Linked DNA regions of Homo sapiens: all the other regions are linked to region 3. The links come from fine-mapping of genetic effects on gene expression. A gene starts in region 3. Each other region holds a variant in brackets. All regions are shown on one strand. Distances are between the middles of the regions. Region 1 overlaps LOC124903037 (a long non-coding RNA gene). Region 2 overlaps CFAP251 (cilia and flagella associated protein 251). Region 3 holds the start of BCL7A (BAF chromatin remodeling complex subunit BCL7A).

Region 1 (8,178 bases), 640 kb before region 3:
ACAAATAGACTCAGCCAGGCATGGTGAATCCTGCCTGTAAGCCTAGCACTTTGGGAAGCAGAGGCTGGAGGATCATTTGAGGGCAGAAGTTTGAGACTAGACTGGGCAACAGAGCAAGACCCTGTCCCTGCAAAAACAAGGGGGGGATGTGATACAGTATGTGACCTTTCGTTTCTGGCTTATTTGACTTAGTAAAATGTTACCCAGATTCATTCATGTTGTAACATGTATCAGTACTTCATTTCTTATGGTTGAATAATATTCTGTTGTGTATATATACCACAATGTTTTAATCCATTCATCAGTTGATGGAAATTTGGGATATATCTGTCTTTTGACTCTTGTTTATAGCACTGCTATGAACATTCATGTACAAGTATTTGTTCTAGTATATGTTTTCAGTTCTTTTGAGTATATACTTAGGAGTAGAATGCTAATTCCTTTTTTTTCTTTTTTTTTTTTTTTTTTGGGAAACAGAGTCTCGGCCGGGCATTGTGGCTCACACCTGTAATCCCAGCACTTTGGGAGGCCAAGGTGGGTGAATCATGTGAGGTCAGGAGTTCGAGACCAGCCTGGCCAACATGGTGAAACCTCGCCTCTACTAAAAATACAAAAATTAGCCAGGCGTGGTTGTGCGTGCCTATAATCTCAGCTACTGGGGAGGCTGAGGCAGGAGAATTGCTTAAAACCCGGAAGCAGAGGCTGCAGTGAACCAAGATTGTGCCACTGCATTCCAGCCTGGATGACAGAACAAGATTCCATCTCAAAAAAAAAAAAAAAAAAAAAAGAAACAGAATCTTGCTCTGTTGCCCAGGCTGGAGCACAGTGGAGTAATCTCAGCTCACTGCAACCTCTGCCTCCCAGGTTCAAGTGATTCTCCTGCCTCAGCCTCCCAAGTAGCTGGGAATACAGGCATGTGCCACTGTGCCTGGCTAATTTTTATATTTTTAGTAGAGATGGTGTTTCACCATGGTGGCCAGGCTGGTCTTGAACCCCTGACCTCAAGTGATCCATCTGCCTCAGCCTCCCAAGTTCTGGGATTACAGGCGTGAGCCACTGTGCGCGGCCAGGAACTACCTTTTTGTATTCTAAGAGTTAGCTCCAAACTAGTCAATGCTGAAGGCCTTGACATTACAATTCTCATTTGTTTCTAAAATACATAAAGACGCTAAAACAATTGGCTTGATGGAAAAAAAAAGTTCAACTCAAGATAAACACTGCATGATCTCATTATGTGTGGTATCCAAAGAAGTCTAACTCATAGAAACGAGAGTAGGTTGGTTGACAAGAGCCATAGGGAGGGAGAAACAGGAGAATTTTGGTCAAAGGAAAGTTTCAATTATAAGATAAATAAATTCTGGAGATCAAAAATATAGCATATGGTAACCGTAACTAATAATAATGTAGGCCGGGCGCGGTGGCTCACGTCTGTAATCCCAGCACTTTGGATGGCCAAGGCGGGTGGATCACGAGGTCAGGAGATCAAGACCATCCTGGCTAACATGGTGAAACCCCATTTCTACTAAAAATACAAAAAATTAACCAGGCATGGTGGCGGGCGCCTGTAGTCCCATCTACTCGGGAGGCTGAGGCGGGAGAATGGCGTGAACCAGGGAGGTGGAGCTTGCAGTGAGCCAAGATTGTGCCACTGCACTCCAGCCTGGGCGACAAAGCAAGACTCCGTCTCAAAAAAATAATAATAAATAATAATAACAATGTATTGTATACTTGACATTTTCTAACACAGTAGAACTTAGTGTTCTTGCCACCAAAAAACGGTAATTACATGAGGTGGTGGATATGTTAATTAGCCTTTCGGTGGTGATCTTTTTTTGACAACGAGTTTCGCTCTTGTTCTTGTTGCCCAGGCTGGAGTGCAGTGGTGCCATCTGGGCTCACTGCAACCTCCACCTCCCGGGTTCAAGCGATTCTCCTGCTTCAGCCTCCCAAGTAGCTGGGATTACAGGCATGGGCCACCACGCCTGGCTGAATTTGTATTTTCAGTAGAGACGGGGTTTCTCCATGTTGGTCAGGCTGGTCTCGAATTCCCAACCTCAGGTGATCCGCCCGCATCGGCCTCCCAAAGTGCTGGGATTACAGGCATAAGCCACCACGCCTGGCTGTGGTGATCATTTTACAGTGTATAAATATATCAAAACATATTGTACACCGTGAATATATACAGTTTTTATTTGTCAATTACACCTCAATAAAGATGGGAGGGAAAGAAAAAGAAAAATGTTTAACTCTACCAAAAATAAAAGAAATGCAAATCAAAATAAGAAAAATGCCATTATTTAGACTCAGAAAGCCAGGCATGGTGGTTCATACCTGTAATCCCAACACTTTGGGAGGCTGAGGCAGGAGGGTTGCTTGAGGTCAGGAGTTCAAGACCAGCCTGGGAAACATAGCAAAACTCTACCTCTACAAAAAAAAATTTTTGGCCGGGCGTGGTGGCTCATGCCTGTAATCCCAACATGCTGTGAGGCTGAGGCAGGTGGGTCACTTGACGTCAGGAGTTAGAGACCAGCCTGGCCAACATGGTGAAACCCCATTTCTACTAAAATACAAAAATTAGCCGGGCATGGTGGCAGGCACCTGTAATCTCAGCTACTGGGGAGGCTGAGGCGTGAGAATCACTTGAACCGAGGAGGTGGAGGTTGCAGTGAGCAGAGATCGCACCACTGCACTCAAGCCTGGGTGAAAGAGTGATACTCTGTCTCAAAAAAAATTTTTTTTTTTTAATTAGCCAGATGTGGTGGCACGTACCTATAGTCCCAGCTACTCAGGAGGCTGAGGTGGGAGGATTGCTTGAAACCAGGAGTTTGAGGCTGCAGTGAGCTGTAATTGTGCCACTGCACTGCAGCCTGGGTGACAGAGTAAGATTCTATTTCTTTTTTTTTGGGGGGGTGGGGACGGAGTCTCGCTTTGTCTCCCAGGCTGGAGTGCAGTGGCACTGTCTCTGCTCATTGCAACCTCCACCTCCTGGGTTCAAGCAATTCTTTTGCCTCAGCCTCCAGAATATTAGAGGGATTAGGGTTGGGATTACAGTTGCCTGCCACCATGCCCGGCTAATTTTTGTATTTTTAGTAGAGATGGGGTTTCACCATGTTGGCTATATGCTGGTCTTGAATTCCTGACCTCAGGTGATCTGCCTACCTCGGCCTTTCAAAGTGCTGGGATTATAGACATGAGCCACCATGCCCAGCTTGATCCTATTTCAAATAAATAAATAAAATAGACACAGTATTGGCCAAGATTTGAGTAAATTAATAAGCGCTGATCAGAGTGCAGAGAATTGGGCTGTTTCTATACAAAACCAATAGAAATGCAAATTGATACACCCATTCTCTGGAAAAATTTGAATGTAGCCTGGACAACATAGCAAGACCCCCATGTCTTTAAAATAATGAGAACATCTGTGTTCTAACGCATAGTGCTTAGCTTTTTTTTTTTTCTTTTTTTTGAGAAGGAGTCGAGCTCTGTTGCCCAGGCTGGAGTGCAGTGGCACAATCTCGGCTCACTGCAACCTCTGCCTCCTAGGCTCAAACAATCCTCCTGCCTCAGCCTCCCGAGTAGCTGGGACTACAGCTGTGTGCCATGCCCGGCCTCTGGCCAGCATACTTTTTAAAAATTGGAAGACTCGGATGGGCACGGTGGCTCACGCCTGTAATCCCAGCACTTTGGGAGGCCAAGGTGGGCGGATCACGAGGTCAGAAGATGGAGACCATCCTGGCTAACACGGTGAAACCCCGTCTCTACTGAAAATACAAAAAATTAGCTGGGCATGGAGGCGTGCGCCTGTAGTCCCAGCTGCTGGGGAGACTGAGGCAGGAGAATGGCGTGAACCGGGGAGGTGGAGCTTGCAGTGAACTGAGATGCCGCCACTGCACTCCAGCCTGGGCGACAGAGCAAGACTCTTTCTCAAAAAAAAAAAAAATTAGAAGACTCAGTAAATGTTAAGTCTGGCTGTTGTAATTGTCAGATGTACATCAAAATGCTGGTACTGCTTATCTTTAAGTAGTGGAATCGTAATTTTAATATTCTTTTGTACACTTTTCTATATTTCTACAATAATGCATTTT[C/T]CTTTTGTAATCAGAAAAAAAAAAGAAAATTAAGATTTCGGTCCTCATAGCCGTCTTTATAGTCAACTTTCTAAGCAAGATAACTTTGCTTAAGGTAATTCTCACTGCTGTGGGACAGTGATTCCATATTGGATAAAGGCTTCGATATTTTTGGAAAGGCATCCCAATCTTTGCTACCCTCTCTTCTAATAAGAGTCGAGGTGAACACTATCAAACAACTGAAAAATACTTCTATCAGGTCAGCGCTCCAGGATATTTCTATTCTTAGACATAATAAGATTTGGAGAGCAGTGCTTTAGAGGCTGGGCAAGAATTTTAGAAAGCTAAGGATTACAACAGATCTGGACATTTCTCCCCCATCCCCATTAACAGTCATGAACTGAAAATTTCTATTAGGGGTCATTCATTTACAGGAAAAACAACGAAAACCAAGAAACTTGGATTATGTCATTCATCTACTAACATTTTTTATGGCACCCCTGTGCCTATTCTAGTACCTACACATTACTCAGCCAGGCATCTGAGGTCATTTTAAAGATAATTTTCAGGCAGGTGTGGTAGCTTAGGCCTGTAATCTCAGCATTTTGGGAGGCTGAGGTGGGAGAATTGCTTCAGCCCAGGAGTTCCAGACCATTTTGGGCAAGAGGGCAAAACTCCATCTCGACAAAAATTACAAAAATTAGCCAGGTGTGGTGGCGCCCACTGGTGGTTCCAGCTAATCAGGAGGCTGAGGCAGGAGGATCGCTTGAGCCCAGGGGTGGAGGCTGTAGTGAGCCGTGACTGTGCCACTGCACTCCAGCCTAGGCAACAGAGCAAGACCCTGTCTCAAACAAAAAAAAAAGTGATATTCAGAGCGACTTGAAACATGGATCTGAATCTAGGTACTGGAGTTTCCACTTTCAGCTTCGGGACTATCAGTTCACACCCAGCTATAAACATATCGAGCAAATTCCTAGAACTCTTCTATGAGTGTCATATCAATATACACACCTGCATATGTGTACTGCTGAGCCACCGCGCCTGGCCAAAAGTATTTTTTTCAAGCGTCTAATGGTGTAATAATTAGCCATTCAAATTAAAGGGGCCATTCTAAAGAATTAGCTTCAGCAGGTGGTGTGGCTCAGGCCTGTAATCCCAGCACTTCGGGAGGCCAAGGCAGGTGGATCACCTGAGGTCAAGAGTTCGAGACCAGCCAGGCCAACATGGAGAAACCCCGTCTCTACTAAAAAAACCATGAAAATTAGCCGAGTGTGGTGGTGTGCACCTGTAGTCCCAGCTACTCAGGAGGCTGAGGCAGGAGAATTGCTTGAACCTGGGAGGTGGAGGTTGCAGTGAGCTGAGATCTTGTCATTGCACTCCAGCCTGGACAACAAGAGCGAAACTCTGTCTCAAAAAAAAAAAAAAAAAAAAGTTGAAGTAGGGGAGATAAGAATTAAATAGAATTGAATCAGTTGAAACAAAAAAAAATTCAATACAAGATGAAAAGAGCTGTTTTGGAAATCTTGGCAGCAGTGCTGAAAAGAAAAGGCTATTTTATTAACCTTTTAGCAAAGACATAGTCAGATGTGTGTTCAAGAATACCATTTGAAATTATAGTCTTACAAAATTACTACAGGCAGCCAGGAATGGTGGGTCATGCTTGTAATCCCACCACTTTGGGAGGGCGAGGCAGGAGGATTGCTTGAGGCCAGGAGTCTGAGACCAGTCTGGGTAACATAGTGAGATCTTGTCTCTACAAAAAAAAAAAAAAAAAAAACGGGCCAGGCATGGTGTCTGTAGTCCCAGCTATTCAGGAGGCTGAGGGGGGAAGATCACTTGAGCCAGGAAGGTCAATGCTGCAGTAAGCCATGATCTTGCCACTGCACTCTAGCTTGGGCAATGGAGCAAGAGCCTGTCTCAAAAAGAAAAAAAAAAAGTACTGCTACAAGTATTGTGACTCTAGAAGGTGTAAGGGTTTCAGAATGAGGATGGACAAAGGTTGACATTTTTGGGAACAATTATTAGGCACATGTATCTCTTTTTTTTTTTTTTTTTTGAGATGGGGTCTCACTCTGTTGCCCAGGCTGCAGTGCAAATGGTGCAATCTCGGCTCTTCGCAACCTCTGTCTCCCGGGTTCAAGCAATTCTCTTGCCTCAGCCTCCTGAGTAGCTGGGATTACAGGCGCACGCCACCATGCCTGGCTAATTTTTGTATTTTTACTAGAAATGGGGTTTCACCATGTTGGTCAGGCTGGTCTCTAACTCCTGACCTTGTGATCCACCCACCTCGGCCTCCCAAAGTGCTGGGATAACAGGCATGAGCCCCCCGTGCCCAGCCTAGGCACATGTATATTCTTACATGATTGTAAATGAAGGTGGTGATGGATAAGAGTACTAATCTTTTTATCCTGCATAGTCTGAAATTGGAATTTTCAAGGCAACTCTTCTTATCACAACCATCTGAATGTCTCCTTCCCTGAATGTCTACTTTATTCATTTATCAGTTGATAATGTTCGTATTTCATTGCGTCTGTCTAATTTGGCTATAAATGTGCAAGAGCGTCAGCCTGTCTGCCTTGGATTGTAAACTGTTAGAGGAGAGAGGCAAGGTTTAGCTAATTCTCTGTGTGAATCATTTAGCATGGCATAGCACTACACACAATCAAGGTTTTAATAAATGTGTTGATTATGATCTTTGAAAAAAGGCTTAGTCCCATTTATCGTCTTCTCGACCTTGTCAGCACTTCTCAAGAGGGTGGGGAGAGTTGACTTAATCTACATTTTTTTTTTTTTGAGACAGAATCCCACTCTGTCATCCAGGCTGGAGTGCAGTGGTGTGATCTCGGCTCACTGCAACCTCTGCCTCCCCAGGTTCAAGCAATTCTTGTGCCTCAGCCTCCCAAGTAGTTGGGATTACAGGTATGCGCCACCATGCCCGGCTAATTTTTGTATTTTTAGTAGAGACAGGGTTTCACCATGTTGAACAGGCTGGTCTCAAACTCCACACCTGAAGTGATCTGCCCGCCTTGGCCTCCCAAAATGCTGGGATTACAGGCGTGAACCACCGCACCTGGCCTACTTTTAATACCTGAAGCTTATGCTAAATACGATAACTGCAACGTATCAGTGACGTCTGTTGGTGAATGTCTGAAATGTATTTTCACATTTCTGTAGCTGTTTGAGATGATATTACTTATATGGTACTTGGACACTTGACTTGAAGTAAATATGTTTTAAAATTGAATCACTTCAGTGTGAAATTCAAATTTTGTGGAATCCAAAAATATTTATTTTGACTTTTGCCAACTGTTATTGGGGATGGAATGCCTAATCCTTGAATTGTAACTTCAACAGAAAGGTCTCATTACCAGCACAGGGGTGAACAAAGGCTCAAGGAGACAGGAGACTTCTATATTTTGCCTCTTAACTATTTTTATTACAGTCAGTGATGTTAATCTCTAAAATATCCCAATAAATTAATGTAATCACTGCAGTTTTCTTTTTTTTTTTTTCTTTTTTTGAGACAGAGTTTCACTCTTGTTGCCCAGGCTGAAGTGCAATGGCACGATCTTGGCTCATTGCAACCTCCATCACCCGGGCTCAAGCGATTCTCCTGCCTCAGCCTCCTGAGTAGCTGGGATTACAGGCATCTGCCACCACGCCCGGCTGATTTTGTATTTATAGTAGAGACGGGGTTTCTCCATGTTGGTCAGGCTGGTCTCGAACTCCCAACCTCAGGTGATCTGCCCACCTCGGCCTCCCAAAGTGCTGGGATTACAGGCGTGAGCCACCATACCCAGCAGTTTTCTATCCATTCTATCAATATTCTATGCATTCATTCATATTTATTAAGTTGTCTATTATGTGCTAGGTTTTGAAATGTATAAAGAAGATGAAGGCCAGGTGTGGTGGCTCACACCTGTAATCCCAGCACTTTGGGAGGCTGAGGTGGGAGGAACACTTGAGCCCAGGGGTTTGAGATCAACTTAGGCACCATAGGGAGACCCTGTCTCACAAAACTTTTTTCAATAATTGTCTGGGTATGGTGGCATGTGCCTATGGTCCCCGCTACTCAGGAGGCTAAGGCAGGAGGATTGCTTGAGCCTAGGAGGTT
Region 2 (8,178 bases), 33 kb before region 3:
CGGCCTAGAAATCATTTTTAAATGAAAGATCTGCAGCATGTATAATGTTATCAAAGGAACCATAGCTTAGGTGTCATCGTTTCTACAGATGATTTCACATACAAGGCAGTTCCATCCTCTATCTTTATAAATGTGTCTTTTCCTCCAGGATGTTGGACTGTCCACGTTGGGATGGGGCCCAGCATATCATTCGTTTCCTGCTTACTTGCAACTTCACTTCTTTTTAGCTTGCAGAGTGTTGTATAATCTTGACAGGTTTGGGCAGGGAATTAACATTGGTGCAACCACCTAGTTCTGTAAACTTAAGTCTAATCCTGTAGAGACGTATGTGCCCAGCAAGTGCCCACATGGTGGACGCTTGGCAAATGTTGATGGAATGAGTGAATGAATCAATGATGCTCATTGGTCATATTCGACAGCAGAGACAGTGAGGAAGACACAATCCCTGACATTATTATTTGATCTCAGTGTAATTCTTAGTAACCCTAATGTGTTTGATATATTCAGGAGCTTGGGCATAGCTTAGGAGCATTTAGAAAGGAATTAAATAGTCACTTAACTTTTTATTTTATTTGCTATTTATTTTTTGCTTAACTTTAAAAATGTATATATCTTTTGACTCAACAAATGTACTTTTAAGAGTGTATCCTGGCCAGGCGCGGAGGCTCACGCCTGTAATCCCAGCACTTTGGGAGGCCGAGGTGGGAGGATCACCTGAGGTCAGGAGTTCGAGACCAGTTTGGCCAACATGGCCAAACCCCGTCTCTACTAAAAATACAAAAATTAGCTGGGCATGGTGGTGCATGCCTGTAATCCCAGCAACTCCAGAGGGTGAGGCAGGAGAATCGCTTGAACCCAGGAGGCAGAGGTTGCAGTGAGCTGAAATGGTGCCACCATACTCTCCAGCCTGGGCGACAGAGCAAGACTCCATCTCAAAAAAAAAAAAAAAAAAAGGGAGTGTATCCTACAGAAAAACTCACCCAAGTTTATAATGATGTACATATGGAAGGAATAATTTTAAATATATAATATATATAAATATTGAGATGGAGTCTCACTACGTTGCCCAGGCTGGTCTCAAACTCCTGGGCTTAGGCAAGCCTCTTGCTTTAGCCTTCCTAGTTGCTGGGACTACAGGCCCTCCAAACCTGTACTTGACCTGAAGGGACAATTGTTGTCACATAGTCTATTGTGTTGAAAATCAAAACAACACTGATATCCATTGATAGGAGATGAGATTAATAAAATAAGGCACACCTACAAGTGAGATTGGCCTGGTACTGTGTCTCTTCACCTGTATTCCCAGCACTTTATGAGGCCAAAGTGGAAGGACCGCTTGTCCTTGGGAATTCAAGACCAGCCTGAGCAGCGTAGTGAGACCTTGTCTCTACAAATTATTATTATTTTTTTGAGAGAGTCTTGCTGTTTTGCCCAGGCTGGTAGGCAATGGCGTGATCTCGGCTCACTGCAACCTCCACCTCCTGGATTCAAGCAATTCTTCTGTCTCAGCCTCCCGAGTAGCTGGAATTACCCGCAGTGCCACCATGCCCAGCTAATTTTTTGTATCTTTAGTAGAGATGGGGTTTCGCCATGTTGGCCAGGCTGGTCTCGAACTCCTCACCTCAGATGATCCTCCCACCTTGGCCTCCCAAAGTGCTGGGATTATAGGCATGAGCCACCATGGCTGGCCACGAATTTTTTTTTTTTTTTTTTGGAGACCGAGTCTCCCTCTGTCACCCAGGCTGCAGCGCAGTGGCACGATCTCAGCTCACTGCAAGCTCCGCCTCCTGGGTTCACACCATTCTCCTGCCTCAGCCTCCTGAGTAGCTGGGACTACAGGCACCCGCCACCACGCCTGGCTAATTTTTTTTTTGTATTTTTAGTAGAGACGGGGTTTCACCGTCTCTACAGTGATCAGAGGATCACTGACCTCGTGATCCTCCCACCTCGGCCTCCCAAAGTGCTGGGATTACAGATGTGAGCCACCGCGCCCAGCCGAATTTTTTTTTTTTTAATTGCTGGATGTAGTGGCTCACGCCTGAAGTCCCAGCTACTCAGGAGGCTGAGGTGGGAGGATCACATGAGCCCAGAGGTCAAGGCTGCAGTGAGCCATGATTGCACCATTGCTCTCCAGTATGGGCAACACAGTGAGACTCTGTCTCAAAGAAAAAGAAAAAAAAAAAAAAGCCCATCTAGGGGTTCTATAAATAAAAGGCCGTTTCATTCAGTGGCATCTGCCCTCCTTAGGAGACAGTTGTGGCTATAAATTTGGGGAGACCTCGGACATACATTTCTGTACTATTTAAGTTCTCCTAACTATAAACATGCAGCTTGTGTTGCTTTTGTATTCAGAACAAAAACGAGAAAGATAAACAAGCAAATCCCCCCAAAGCCCTGTGTGCTAATCTTCATGGCTAAAGCAGGGTCCCAGCTGGGATGGAGGTCTGTAGCCAAGTGGTTCAGCCTCACCCATAACGAGGGGGGTAATTTGAGCCAAGAAGCACAGGGACAATTTCTGTTCTGATAAAGACCCCGAGGGAATTTGGAAATTTGCACTTTGAAGAGAAGCCCTCAGTATGTTGGGTCTTGCCCTGAAACGTAAATATCAGCAGGCATTTCCATCCTGAAGGTAATAGAAGTGGCCCAGTGTTCTAGGGGAGGCCTTCCTGGCCAACAGAGAGTCCGTGGCCAGGCCCCTGCCCAGCGAGAGGTGGGCTTCCTGCAGAAAGATCAGAGCAAGACAAAACTATTTCTGCTTTTCACATGTAAAGCATTTAAAGAAATAAATCTTGGATTACTATGCAGCCATTAAAAAGAATGCAGGCGATAGAGTCCAGGCCTGGTGGTTCATACCCGTAATCCCAGCAGTTTGGGAGGCTGAGGTGGGCGCATCACCTGAGGTCAGGAGTTCGAGACCACCCTGGCCAACATGGTGAAGCCCTGTCTCTACTAAAAATACAAAAATTAGCCAGGCATGGTGGCGCACACCTGTAATCCCAGCTACTCGGGAGGCTGAGGCAGGAGAATCGCTTGAACCCGGGAGGCGGAGGTTGCAGTGAGCTAAGATGGCACCATTGCACTCCAGCCTGGGCAAGAAAAGCGAGACTCCGTCTCAAAAAAAAAAAAAAAAAAGAATACAGGTAATAGTAATGCATAATACCATTCTGGGAAAGTGAGGCCTAGAGAGAGAAGAAAGATTGTATAGTCACTTAGCTACCGAGGGCACAGCCAGGGTTTGAACCAAGCTGGCTGACCCCCAACTCCAGGTTCTGTTCCTACGTATGTATGAGTTGGTACAAAGAAGGAAGAAAACCCTAAAAATTCTGGCATCCAACACTGGTTATTGCTGCAGGACGGGGAATTTCAGGGCATTTTATTATTATTTTTCTTTATATCTCCATTGTTAGAATTTTTCATAACAAGCATGTTTCACTCTTGACTGGTTTTATGATATAAAAGGGTAGATCACAATGATGGTGGAAGATATATTTTAAAAATATTTTAAATATTTTTAAATATTTTTAAAAATATTTCAAAAATATTAAATTAATGTTCTTAGAATCGAAATGTTGTTACTTGCCATTGCCATGGCTTCTCCATATTATTTATTTTCTTTTCTTAAAAAAAACTTTATTGAGATATACCACATACCACGTAATTCACCTGTTTAGAGGATGCAGTTCATTGGTTTTTAGAATGTCCACCGAGTAGTGCAGACATCACCACCACGTAATCCTAGAACATGTTTATCATCCCAAAAAGAAACCCCAGACCCATGAGCACTCACTTCCCATTTCTCCTTCAACCACCGATGTGCTTTCTGTCTCTATGGATTGGCCTATCTTGGCATTTCATATAAATGGAGTCATGAAATATGTGGTCTTTTGGGTCCAGCTTCTTTCACTCACTCAGCATCATGTTTTCCAGGTTCATCCAGGTTGTAGCTTGTCTCAGTCCTTCATTCTTTTCTTTATGATTGAGTAACATTCTATTCGTTCATGTAGATATGCCACATTTTATGTATCCATTCACGAACAGATGGACATTTACGTTTTCCCATTTTCTTGGCTATTATGGATAAGGCTGCTGTGAACATTCGTGTGCAAGTTTTTTGTTGTTGTTGGATTTTTTTTTCTTTTTTTTCTCTTTTTTTTTTTTTTGAGATGAAATCTCCCTCTGGCTGGAGTGCAATGGCGCGATCTCGGCTCACTGCAGCCTCTGCCTCCCAAGTTCAAGTGATTCTCCCACCTCAGCCTCCCGAGTACCTGGGACTACAGGTGCCCGCCCCCACGCCCAGCTAATTTTTGTATTTTTAGTAGAGATGGGGTTTCACCATGTTGGCCAGGCTGGTCTTGAACTCCTGACCTCAAATGATCCACCCAACTTGGCCTCCCAAAGTGCTGGGATCCCAGATGTGAGCCACGGTGCCCGGCCCACATCACTTCTTCACTTGAGCTAGGAACCATCTGGGGCTTTAGGGTGCATGAGGCAGGATCAGGATTTTAGAGAGCTGTGGACACAGAATTAGCAAATCCTTGATTGTGGGTTTGGTACAAGGTGCAAGACTTGTCATTCAGCTAGGACTGTCTCTTTCAGACCTTTGAAAACATTCACTGGGAAGGGAAGAGTCCCTGGAGGTGTTTGAGACCTGGGCTCTGATGCAGGGCAGGGTGACAGTCACTCTAAAGGGCCCTGTGAATGGGTGTTGTTCACATGGAGTAGAAGACAGTGGGCAAGAGCACCAGGCCAGGCCTTGGCTGCTGTCACCTGAGACTGCGTCCAGAGGGCAGAACTGTGCATGC[A/G]TGCCCCACTCCTGGAAAAAGAGGCAGTCGCCATCCAGATCTAGTTCCTGGAGGGAGGTATGGAGCAGTTGGGGTCACAGTGTTGCATGAATCGCAGAGGGGGCGCTCACAGGGGTCTCCAGATGTGGCCATGCAGTGACGCTGCCCAGCCCTTACGCCCCCTCCTCAGCCCACTACTCCCTGCCCCGGGTCAGCGAGGAGATGCAGGGGGTGACCAGGGGAGGGTATGAGTGAAGATGATGAGTGGGAACAAGACACTGTGCCCCATTAGTTGAGAATGTTCTAGAGGGTATTGTGCGTTGGGAAGAGGGCGTGGGGAAGAGGGTGAGTGCTCCCAGTCCTACTGGTCCATGAAACCATTAGAAAAGCAAACCTGCCCCCACCAGGAGCCTGCTTATAAAAACAAGGAATGGCCCCAGTTCAAATATATCGTGTTCCTCTCCATTTAATAGGGAGGTTGTAAAACTTAATTATAGAACATAATTCTAAGGACATCAATGGCTTCCTGAGGCTGACAGCAGGGATCACAGACCCAAAGGCCTGCGTCATCAATGACAGAGGCAGAAATAAGATGCTCTCGGGTGAGGGGACTCCAGCCCACCACCAAGAGGCCACCCTCATGTCTTGGGGCCTGGAGCAGTCGGGGCAACAGAGGCCCAGATGCTGTATGTCTAAATGTTTAAAAGTTACCAATCAAGCAACAAGCTGATAAATAAATATTCCCCCTTGACAGTTCAACCTTCAACATGAGCTGATTCAAAGTTCACACCCGAATGGGCAGCATGCAGGGCCAAGCCAAGCTGGGCCTGCCCCATGTGTCCTCCCAGCTCTGACCCCATCCCTGGCCACTGTGTGCATGGCATTCAGGAGGTGGACCCTTCTCTATACTCTCCAAACAGCAGCCCCGGGGCACCCTTCAGGCCTATGGGTGGGCAACACCAGGGGCACAGGTTGGCCTCAGGAGGGTGAGATCCCCATGGGCCCCGGAAGTGGGCTTAGGTTATGTAGGGGAGAGAAGCCTCGGGTTCAGGTACCCAGAGTGTGGTCTAGAATTGGGTGCATGGGCTCGGGGTGGGCACCTCCTCTGCACCCTCCTCCTCATGCTTGTTTCCCAGCATACAGTGTCTTCCTCTGACCTCCTACTGGCCAAACCCTTCATGGCTCTGCAGTAGGCCCACCTCTTCCAGGAAGCCTTCCCGAAGCCCACCTGGCTGAGAGCTCCTCCAACCTTTGATGATGTTCTCCTGCATCTTGGCACTGAATCTTCTAGAGCCACGGTAGCCAACCTTTTAAAATCAGTTGAGGGCACTTAAAAAAATACATCAGTATTTTTACACCTGATTTTTACACCTGGGCCCCAGCCTTGTGCAACAGAACCTAGGGGTGGAGTCTAAGCATGGACAGTTTTTAAAGCCCCAGGCAGCCAGGGCTGAGGACCTTGGCGATGGAGCCTGTTAGTTCGCTTTCCTTGTGTATATCGTCTCTTGAGCATCTCTTCACATGGCCCAGACCTTAATAGACACTGAATAAATATTTGCTGACCCCAGTGACTAAGATTGAAAACCAGAATGCAGAACTGTTCTAGTAATAATTGAGAGACTTGTATTTCATTGGCTTTGCACTAAACCAAATGCTCAGTAACTACTAGTAAATCGAGTAAAATTAACTAGGGCACTAAATGATTATTCTAAGCTTCTTGTGAGTTTCAAGAGAATTCTTTTTGTGGCCTCACTTGTGTCCACATTATTTACTTCATCATTCATTCATTCATCCATTCATCCATCTATCTATCCATTCAGTAAACATTTCTCTGAGCCTCTATAATGTGCCAGGCTCTGAACTAAGCTGCCGGGGAAATAGAGATGAAAGCTCTGGCTACAGCTTAATGGGGAAAACAGATGTGAGCCCAAAGAATTAGAGCGTGCACCGCAGCTGCCACCCATTATTACTCTCTACTGAAAGTCACAAGCTTGGGGCTGATTCATTTTGGCACCAGTATCACCTCCGTGAACCCCTGTGGTCTAAGAGCAGCAGTATTCAAAGTGTGGTCCCCAGACCAACAGGATTGACTTCACGTGACCTAGGGACTTACAAGAAATGCAAATGGTCAGACCCTATCCCAGACTCAGAAACCCCCCAGGTGGGACCAGCAGTCTGTTTGAACAAGACCTCCCGGTCATTGTGAAGCCTGACATGTCAGCGAGCCTTTGCCTTCCAGCCATGTTTCTCAAGCTTGGCTACGCATTCAAATCATTCGAATGAGAAGCTTCCAAAAATTTGGTCCCCAGACCAATTAAATCAGGATCTCAGCTGGTTGTGGTGGCTCATTCCTGTAATCCCAGCAATTTGGGAGGCCGAGGCAGGCAGATCACTTGAAGTCAAGAGTTTGAGACCAGCCTGGCCAACAGTAGGAACCCTGTTGCTACTAAAAATACAAAAATTAGCCAGCTGTGGTGGCGCGCGCCTGTAGTCCCAGCTACTTGGGAGGCTGAGGCAGGAGAATTGGTTGGACTCAGGAGGTGGAGGTTGCTGTGATCCGAGATCACGCCACTGGACTCCTGCCTGGGCGACAGAGTGAGACTATCATCTAAAAAAAAAAATCAGGTTCTCAGGGAATAGGATCTGGGCCTCAGAACTGTTTAAGCTCTCCAGGTGAATGGAATAAAGCCCCGCCTTAGCAGGCGTGAGAATGCCAATCAAAGGCCAGGCTGACTGACAACCACCAGTGCGTCTGGGCCGCTCAGCTAGGACTCCTGCTTCTCTCAAGCCATCTTCACACGGGGGCGTTCAGAACAAGCTCTGCGTTCTATTTCCAGCTCCGAGGTTCCTCTCCCAAGCATGAACTTTGTTCAGACAAGTAGCAGAACCTGCCTTTTCAACGAACACTTGCGAAGTCGGCTCAGGAAGGAAATGTCAGTGATGCCGAAGCTGCCAACTCCGTGCTTGTTGAGTAGTGATTCTTGATCAGTCATACGGGAAGAGAGAGTAAGAGGTGAATCACATGCTGAGTGGTTTGTGCTGTGAATGTTTGCTGAGCTCTTTGGAACTCTCTGGGTATGAGTAACTCAGGCCCTTATGAATTCCTTTTGTCGTCTTAGTCTCCTGTTCTGAACTGAGTTAAATCATATATTACATTGGTAATTTATATATATTTATATATATTATTTCTTTTTTTTTTCTTTTTCAGACAGGGTCTTACTCCTCACTCCTGTTGCCCAGGCTGGAGTGCAGTGGCACAATCACGGCTCAGTGCAGCCTCCACCTCCCGGGCTCAGGTGATCCTCCCATCTCAGCCTCCCAAGTAGCTGGGACTACAGGCACATGCGCCACCACGCCAAGCTAATTTGTTGTCTTTTTTGTAGAGACAGGATTTCAC
Region 3 (8,178 bases):
TGGGAGGCTGAGGTGGGCAGATCACGAGGTCGGGAGATCGAGACCATCCTGGCTAACACGGTGAAACCCCGTCTCTACTAAAAATACAAAAAATTAGCCAGGCGTGGTGGCGGGCGCCTGTAGTCCCAGCTACTTGGGAGGTTGAGGCAGGAAAATGGTGTGAACCCAGGAGGCGGAGCTTGCAGTGAGCTGAGATCACGTCACTGCACTCTAGCCTAGGTGACAGAGCAAGACTCCGTCTCAATCAAAAAAAGGCCAGAAAATTAAAATCCACGACTCACACTAAGCGGGAGTCCTTTCCCACGATAATCTGGGCCCTGTCGGACTCCACCAATGGTATGCTGGTAAATGTTCAACCACCAGCTCTGGCTGGGGCTGGGGAAGGAGGGTCCTGATGTATAAATCATTTGCCGATTTCCATGGTGTAAATACTCCCTCCACAGCTGATTCCAAACTCTCAGCATGAGGTCACTAAACACAGAGCTGGGAAGCAGAAGCCTGTAAACCATCTGCAGCACATCCCTGGCTCCACCCTCAGACTACAAGAAGTCAACCAGTCTTGCACAACTATGCGGCCAGGATTCGCATCACCTGAGTGGTCGGGGGCTCACAAACCCTGAACTAGGATTGAGGTCACCCCAGACTAGCAGTGACCTGAGGGGCCTGGCAGAAGCAAATATAAATTATTTCTAGGGGGAGGCCTCAAATTATCCCTATGAATAAATTTTAAAATAGTGTCCAGCATGGTCAAAGAGAACCAGGCATATAACAAGGAACTATGACACCATGAGCAAGACCTAGCAGAAACAGACTCTTGGAGACTTCAAATACTAGAATCATCAGACACAGGCTGTAAAACTACTGTGCTTTGTTGAAAGAAAGAAGTGTAAAAATACCTGCAGGAGACAGGAAACTACTAAAAGTGACATACTAGATTTACAAAGGACATTTGAAGAAAGCTTTATGGTTTTATTGGGGATCAAAATCACAAATACTTTCAGGGGCCAGACAGGTAACACAAATGAGTAAAGTGGCTATGAGTGCACTGGTGACCCAGATAACTCTGTCTGAAAGATACAGACAGAGCTCTCTGCTCTAGCCGATGGGTGCCATGTGGCACTGAGGGTCCAGTTTGCAGATCTGCTGGTTCTAGAGAAGCTGGGTATTTTTTTTTTTCCTTCCTTCCTTCCTCCCTCCCTCCTTCCCTCTTTTTCTTCCTTCTTCCTTCCCTCCCTCTCTCCTTCTCCTCATCCCTCTCTCTTTTCTTCTTTCTTTCTTTCGTTCTTTCTTTTCTCTCTCTCTCTCTCTCTCTCTCTTTCTTTGCTTCATGCAGTGGCATGATCTTGGCTCACTGCAGCCTCTACGTTCTGGGCTCAAGCCATCTTCCCCACCTCAGCCTCCTGAGCAGCTGGGGCTGCAGATGCGCACAACCACACCTGGCTATTTTTTGAATTTTTTGTAGAGATGGGGTTTCACCATGTTGCCCAGGCTGGTCTCAAACTCCTGGCCTCTAGCAGTCCACCCACCTCGGCCTCCCAAAGTGCTGGAATCACAGATGTGAGCCACCGCGCCCAGCCTAGATTTCTTTTTATTATGATCAAATACACATAAAATTGACCATTGTAACCATTTAAAAGTGTACAATTCAGCGTCATTAAGTACATTCACATTGTTCTGCAACCATCACCACTATCTCATTCCAGAACTTTCCTATCACTCCGAAAGGAAACCCCACATCCGTTAGCAGTCACTCCTGCTCTCCCTCCCCCTTGCCTCTGGCAACCACCAATCTGATATCTGTCTTTATGGATTCGCCTAGTTGTAGATATCTCCCGCAAATGGACTTACGCATATTTATCCTTTTGTGACTGGCTTCTTTCACTTAGCGTGTTTCAAGGTTCACCCATGTTGTAGCATGTATTCATTCCCTTTTATGGCTGAATAATATTCCATTGTGTGGATAGACACATTTATCTGTTCCTCAGTCACTATTTGAATTCTGACATAATATTTTCCTATTTTAAATTTTAAGATACATTTTTTTAAAGTTTCATGTGGCCCAAAGCACATACCTATTGATCTCACATATCTCTGTGAGATCTGTTTTATGACCTGCTGTTGCATATTTTCCCAGAAAATTCTCGGAACGATTCTCTGAAGTCCTTCTTTCTCTTTCTCTTTTTTTTCTTTTTCTTTCTCTCTTTCTTTTTTTGTTTTGTTTTGTTTTATTTTGTTTTGTTTTGTTTTTTTGAGATTCAGTTTTGCTCTGTTGCCCAGGCTGGAGTGCAATGGCATGATCATTGCACCTCTGCCTCCCAGGTTCAAGCATTTTCCTGCCTCAGCCTCCCGCGTAGCTCAGATTACAGGCCTGCACCACCACGCCCAGCTAATTTTTGTATTTTTAGTAGAGACAGGGTTTCTCCATGTTGGCCAGGCTGGTCTCGAACTCCTGACCTCGTGATCTGCCCACTTCGGCCTCCAAAGTGCTGGGATTACAGGCATGAACCACCGCGCCCGGCCTTTTTTTTTTTTCTGAGACAGGGTCTCACTCTGTCTCCCAGGCTGGAGTGCAGTGGCTGGATCTCTGCTCACTGCAACCTCCGTCTCCCAGGTTCAAGCGAGTCTCCTGCCTCAGACTCCCGAGTAGCTGCGATTACAGGAGCCCACCACCGCGCCCGGCTAATTTTTGTATTTTTAGTAGAGACGGGGTTTCACCCACCATGTTGGCCAGGCTGGTATCGAACTCTTAACCTCAAGTGATCCACCCGCCTCGGCCTCCCAAAGTGCTGGTATTACAGGCATGAGCCACCGCGCCCGGCCAGTATTTGTTCTTTTCTTCATTTTTCACGTCAGGAGACTGCGTTTCAGAATAGTAAAAACAAATGCCTAGGAAAAGGCCTGCGGTCTCTCCATTTCCACAGTAGCGTGTTCCCCAAAGACCAAACCCTCAGGGGAAACGTCTAGAATGAGTAACAACTTAAGGCTGCAACCTTAAACTTTCCCAGGACTCAGTTTCCCCAGCTGTGAAATGGCTGCTGTCGGGCTGTCATCTCCAGGCCCGGGGCGCTGACATTTGGGCCACTCTCGGTCTCCCTCTTCATTCTGGGCGCGCATTAGCTCTGGTCCGGCCGGTTCCGCTGCAGCTGAACAGCAAGATGCGGCACCCAGGTTACCCTGATCATCGCAGATTTCTCCCCGGGGCTCTGTTCTGAGGCCTCAAAAGTGCTCCTTGTAGATGGGACCAGGGGTCATTTGGGCAGTAGCAGCGCCTGGTCTCAGTCTGGTACTGAAGTCAGGAATGGCTTAAGGTGAAATCGTGGTCCTCTGGTGAAGCTCAGCGAAGACCCCCTCGCCTTGTTTATGACAAGAGAACTTCTGGGGGCGGGAGGAAGAGTCCCTGTTACGATGCTGATCATCATTGAGCTTTTGCTGAGCAGAAAACTCTTTAGTACTCAAGGTCGAGAGTCTCTGGTGGTCTGCCTGGCACCAGGCACCTTCCTACAACCCTAGTTTTCCAAAAGGACAAAGCCTGGGGCAGGCGACGTCCTAGCTCGCATTTGAACAGGGCCGCGGGCCAGCAGAGATGCGCGATGCCCAACTCTTTCCAAGAGCACCTCGCGTCCCGAACCGGTGCCTTCAACTCGGAGAAGTCAAGAGACCCGCAAGAAACTTGCACGACTGCACCCGCCGCCGCGCTCTGGGGGCTGGGCAGGGGCAGCTGGGCTGGCTCCCGGGGAACGCGACCCCCCCGCGCCCCGCAGACCGGCTGTCTCCCATGGACCCCTCGGCACCTGCAGCCTCCGAGGAAGGGTCAGCGCGCGTGTCCGCACGCCCGCCCCCACCGCGCGCCCAGAGCCGGGGGTCGCCGTGCGCCCTTCGCCACCTCCCCAGGAGGGCGTCCGGGGCGTCCCCTCTGGGGGCGCAGGAGGCCCGGGGGCGCTGCCCGGTGGCCGCGGCGCCCGGAGGCCGCACTGCCGGCGGCGGCGGCGGCGCGGCTCCCCCTGCTCTGTGCAGCTGCCGCCCGGCGCTTGCGCACTGGGCCAGGCGCGCGGCGGCCCCGGGCTTTGTGTGTGTGTGTATGTGTGTGTGTGTGTGTGTGTGTGTGTGAGTGTGTGCGTGTGAGAGTGCGAGTGTCTGTGCGCGAGTGAGTGAGCGGCGGGCGGGCGCGAGTGTGGCCGCCGCGGAGCGCGAGCAGGACCCGGCGGGCGCGCTCCCCAGCCTCCGTCTCCCCGCCGGAACCATGTCGGGCAGGTCGGTTCGAGCCGAGACGAGGAGCCGGGCCAAAGATGATATCAAGAGGGTCATGGCGGCGATCGAGAAAGTGCGCAAATGGTAAGCGGAGGCGCCCGCCGCCAGCCGCCTCCCCGGCCGCCCCGAGCCCGAGCGCGGCTCCAGAGAGCCGCGGGGCGCAGCGCCCCGGCCGCCTGCCCCGGCCCAGCCCCGCCGCGGGCCCCGGGACTTGGCGAGGGCGGGCGGACGGGCGGGCGGCGCGCGAGCCGGGTCACCTGCGCCAGGCTGGGGCCGCGGCCGCTGCCCAGGTGCGCTCGCGCCTGTAGCCCACCTGGCGCGGCGGCCCGGAGGCGGCGGGCGCCGGGGCCAGGCGGTTGGAGCGGCGGGGCGGCCCCCGCCGCGGCGCTCGGCTCCCGGGAGGGGGGCTCGGGGCCGGCCCCAGAAGCCATTTCGTTTTGTGCAAGTCACATGAAAGCGGCTTCCCGCGCGCCGGGGCCGCGATGCCGGCGGCGGCGGGGAGAGCGCGAGCTCCATTGTGCAGGCTCCGAGCGGGCCGCCGCCGCCGTCTCCTCCCCGCGCACCCCGGCCCGCGCCCCGCCGCCCTCCGCCAGCCCCGGCCCGCCCGGCCGCCCGCTCCCGCCTCCCGGGCCCGGCGCCCTCGAGTCTGCGGAGTTTGCAGAGCGCGAGCCGTTTAAATTTAGCGCTTTGGGCTGCCTGGAGCGAGGGCTCTCGGCGACCAGGAAAGATGGGGGCGAGCGCTGGGAGCCAGCGGCCAGGGGCGCGGGGCGCCCACGTCCCACCCCGCTCTGCGCGGCGCCCCGGGCGGGGGGCTCGGGCCAGCCGATGTTTTTGGCCAGAAGCCGTTCGTCCTGGGCCGCGGCTGCCTCTCCACACCGGGAGCTCGTGTTTGTTTTGCGGAGGGAGCTGTTGTTTTTGTTCTCTGCACCGGGGAGAGGGGGACTTGGTGGCGGCCGCGCGTGGTTTTCGGGATCACATTAGCGTCCGCCCGGCGTGGCCCGGTCGACATTAAGGGGATCGAACCTTTCCGCGGCCTCGTCGGGGTCTGCTCGGAATCGGCCCCTGGGCCAGGCCCGAGGCGCAAGCAGATCGCCAGGTTGGGTCAGAGTTGTTGAAAACTCCCCGCTGCCTGATTTCAACTTTATTATTTTTTTCCCACGCCTTCACTGGGGTCCCGGAGGGAGAGGAGCCGCCGCAACGCTGGCTCTGAGTGTCAGCGCCCGCGGGCTCGTCTCGACCCTTTATTTCGAGCCTGGAAGCTGGGCAGGCCCTGTGGCAGGGGATGTTTACGTTTGGGGGTGTCGTTTCTCGAGTAGCGCCTCGGTCTCTAAAAGCCACTGGGGGCGAGCCTCCGGTGTGGCGGTGTCACAAGTTAGCTGTCCTTTCTGAGTCAAACCCAACAAAAAAGGCAAGAGGAAAATCAATAAAGTCCACGTGCTCCCCGGCCTCCTATGGAAAGGGCTGGCTGCGATGGCCGGATGCCCGGCCGTGGGCTGGGTTTGGCTCCAGTGGGACAAAGAATTTTCAGAACCGTGAGAAGGGGAGGCTTTCCAAAGTTGAGATCCAAGTCGTCGGTGTCTCGGGAGCTCCCCTGGTACACAGGGTGCCCGGTGCCCGACTGGAGCCATTTAAAAATGGCAGAAACAGCTGCAGGCCAACACACACACGCTGGAAAACAACCCGCAGCCCCCTCTACTGTGGGATTCCCCGCGGGAAGCCCGGAGTTGCTCCCCTCCTTGCCTCAGCCCCTGTGCAAAGAAAGAACTGGTGTCTGTGCCTGGGTCCCTTCTGTCGCCGGCCTGGAGGTTGGGAAACAGCCGGCAAGCCGCCTTTCTCTGCTCGAGGAGGCGTGGTGGGGCCTCCTACTCCAGGTTCCCGGCTGGACAGAGGCTCCTGCACCCTGACAGCTGCTCCCGCAGAGCGGCCAGCTGCTCTGCAGGGAGGGCAGATGGAGAGATGGGGCTTCCCACCCCGCGGGCCCCGGGGCGGCCGGCCTGGAGGCCTTCCAGCCCGCTGACCCCGCGGGGACCAGGCCTGTAGTTGGAGCTTGAGGGGCTGTACCTCTGCGCCTCCCTGGGTTTGGGGAAACAACACATCGTGTCCTCTGAAGACCTCAGGCTTTGGGATCTCATGGTCCAGCTTCCAGTTCACTTCGTTGCCGCGACCTTGGGCATATCATTGTCACTTCTCTAACCATGGTGACCCGGGGTTTTGTGCTTGGCTTCCAGGTCCCCTCGGGTTATTGAGGACGATTGAGGTCATGCCTCCGAGAGCACCGCGCCCTGGGCGCAGGAGGAGCTGTTGCTCAGTGTTGTCTGTGTTGTAAGGTGGACTTTGTAGAAACTTGGCTTTGAGGTTTTTTGTTTTTTTTTTTTTTTGGCCCCTTCTAAGCGAAAGCCTTGGACTTATTGCCCAGGTTTCTCTGGCCCCTGAGAAGCCATATCTCACCTTCCCCGCGCCTTCGGATTGGGTCTTAGACTCAGCCCATGAGACTGTGGGTTGTTTATTAATTGTGTGGTCACCAACCATGCATTTCACCACTGGTGGGGGGGTGGGGTTGCCAGGTTTAACCAGATAAAAATACAGCACACCCAGTTAAATTTGAATTTCAGATAAACAATGAAAGATTTTTTTAAAAATAAATGTTTTTGAGTATGTCTCATGCAATATTTGGGACACACTTATACTAAAACATTATCTAATTTATCTGAAATGCAAATTTAACAGGGCACCCTGTATTTTACCCAGAGGGAAGCCGAAGTGTTTGGCAGATCATTTGGCCCCATGAGCCTTGGGTGGGTTTCTCCTCAGCCCTAGTGACCCCTAAAATTACCCCCCCGACCCACCCACTGTCCCCTGATGCTTCCCCCACCCCCGGAAAAAGCTGTGGCCTCCCTCTCATTTGGGGCAGGCTGCCTCCTGTTCTCTTTTTCTGGTGTTTCAGCAAGGCAGGCCAGTGGAGGTGAGGTGACCAGAAGATGGCTAAAGGGAAAACAAAATGGTGGGCCTCTTTTTGGGAAACTGGGCCAGGGTTTGGGGGCCCTGTGCTGGTGGAGGAGAGAAGACCCCAGGGCGATGGTAGGAGACGAAAGCTTGGGCTGCAGCGTAAGCTTGGAGGCCCGCTGCGGTGGCTCACGCCTGTAATCCCAGAGCTTTGGGAGGCTGAGACAGGAGGATTGCTTGAGCCCAGGAGTTTGAGACCAGCCTGGGTCTCAAACCAAAAAAAAAGAAAAAGAAAAAAAAGAGCCGGGCGCGGTGGCTCACGCCTGTAATTTCAGCACTCTGGGAGGCCGGGCAGGCGGATCACGAGGTCAGGAGATCAAGACCATCCTGGCAAACATGGTGAAACCCCGTCTCTACTAAAAAAATACAAAAAAATTAGCCAGGCGTGGTGGCGGGCGCCTGTAGTCCCAGCTACTTGGGAGGCTGAGGCAGGAGAATGGCGGGAACCCAGGAGGTGGAGCTTGCAGTGAGCGGAGATTGCGCCACCGCACTCCAGCCTGGGCAACAGAGCGAGACTCCATCTCAAAAAAAAAAAAGAAGAAGAAGAAAAAAGAAAAATTAGTCTGGACGCAGTGGCTCATGCCTGTAATCCCAGCACTTTGGGAGGCCGAGGCAGGCAGGTCACCTGAAGTCAGGAGTTGGAAACCAGCCTGGCCAACATGGTGAAACCCTGTCTCTACTAAAAATACAAAAAATTAGCTGGATGTGGTGGTACACGCCTGTAATCCCAGCTACTCTTAAGGCTGAGGCAGGAAAATTGCTTGAACCTGGGAGGCGCAGGTTGCAGTAAGCCGAGATCGCGCCACTGCACTCCAGCCTGAGCAACAGAGCAAGACTCCATCTCAAAAAAAAAAAAAAAAAAAAAAGAAGAAAGAAAAGAGAAAAGGCCGGGCACGTTGGCTCACACCTGTAATCCCAGCACTTTAG

What was found. PIP is the estimated chance that this variant, and not a neighbour inherited with it, causes the effect.
Region 1: its variant is fine-mapped to the expression of BCL7A in testis (GTEx, PIP above 0.99).
Region 2: its variant is fine-mapped to the expression of BCL7A in whole blood (INTERVAL, PIP 0.98).

What each region holds. Positions count from the first base shown.
Region 1 is chr12:121,378,915-121,387,092 of GRCh38, forward strand. All of the region lies in intron 1 of LOC124903037 (a long non-coding RNA gene), which reads left to right. Among named protein-coding and RNA genes, the nearest start is that of RNF34, 17 kb to the right of the region's middle. The variant C/T (reference allele first, on the strand shown) is at 4,086.
Region 2 is chr12:121,984,602-121,992,779 of GRCh38, forward strand. All of the region lies in intron 19 of CFAP251 (cilia and flagella associated protein 251), which reads left to right. Among named protein-coding and RNA genes, the nearest start is that of BCL7A, 33 kb to the right of the region's middle. RefSeq lists enhancers at 6,434-6,483, 7,566-7,665. The variant A/G (reference allele first, on the strand shown) is at 4,803.
Region 3 is chr12:122,017,852-122,026,029 of GRCh38, forward strand. It overlaps BCL7A (BAF chromatin remodeling complex subunit BCL7A), which reads left to right and starts at 4,033. Exons shown (of 6, transcript NM_001024808.3): 1 at 4,033-4,332. The coding sequence starts at 4,241. RefSeq lists silencers at 3,912-3,991, 4,122-4,441, 4,592-4,751, 6,232-6,321 and an enhancer at 4,586-5,401.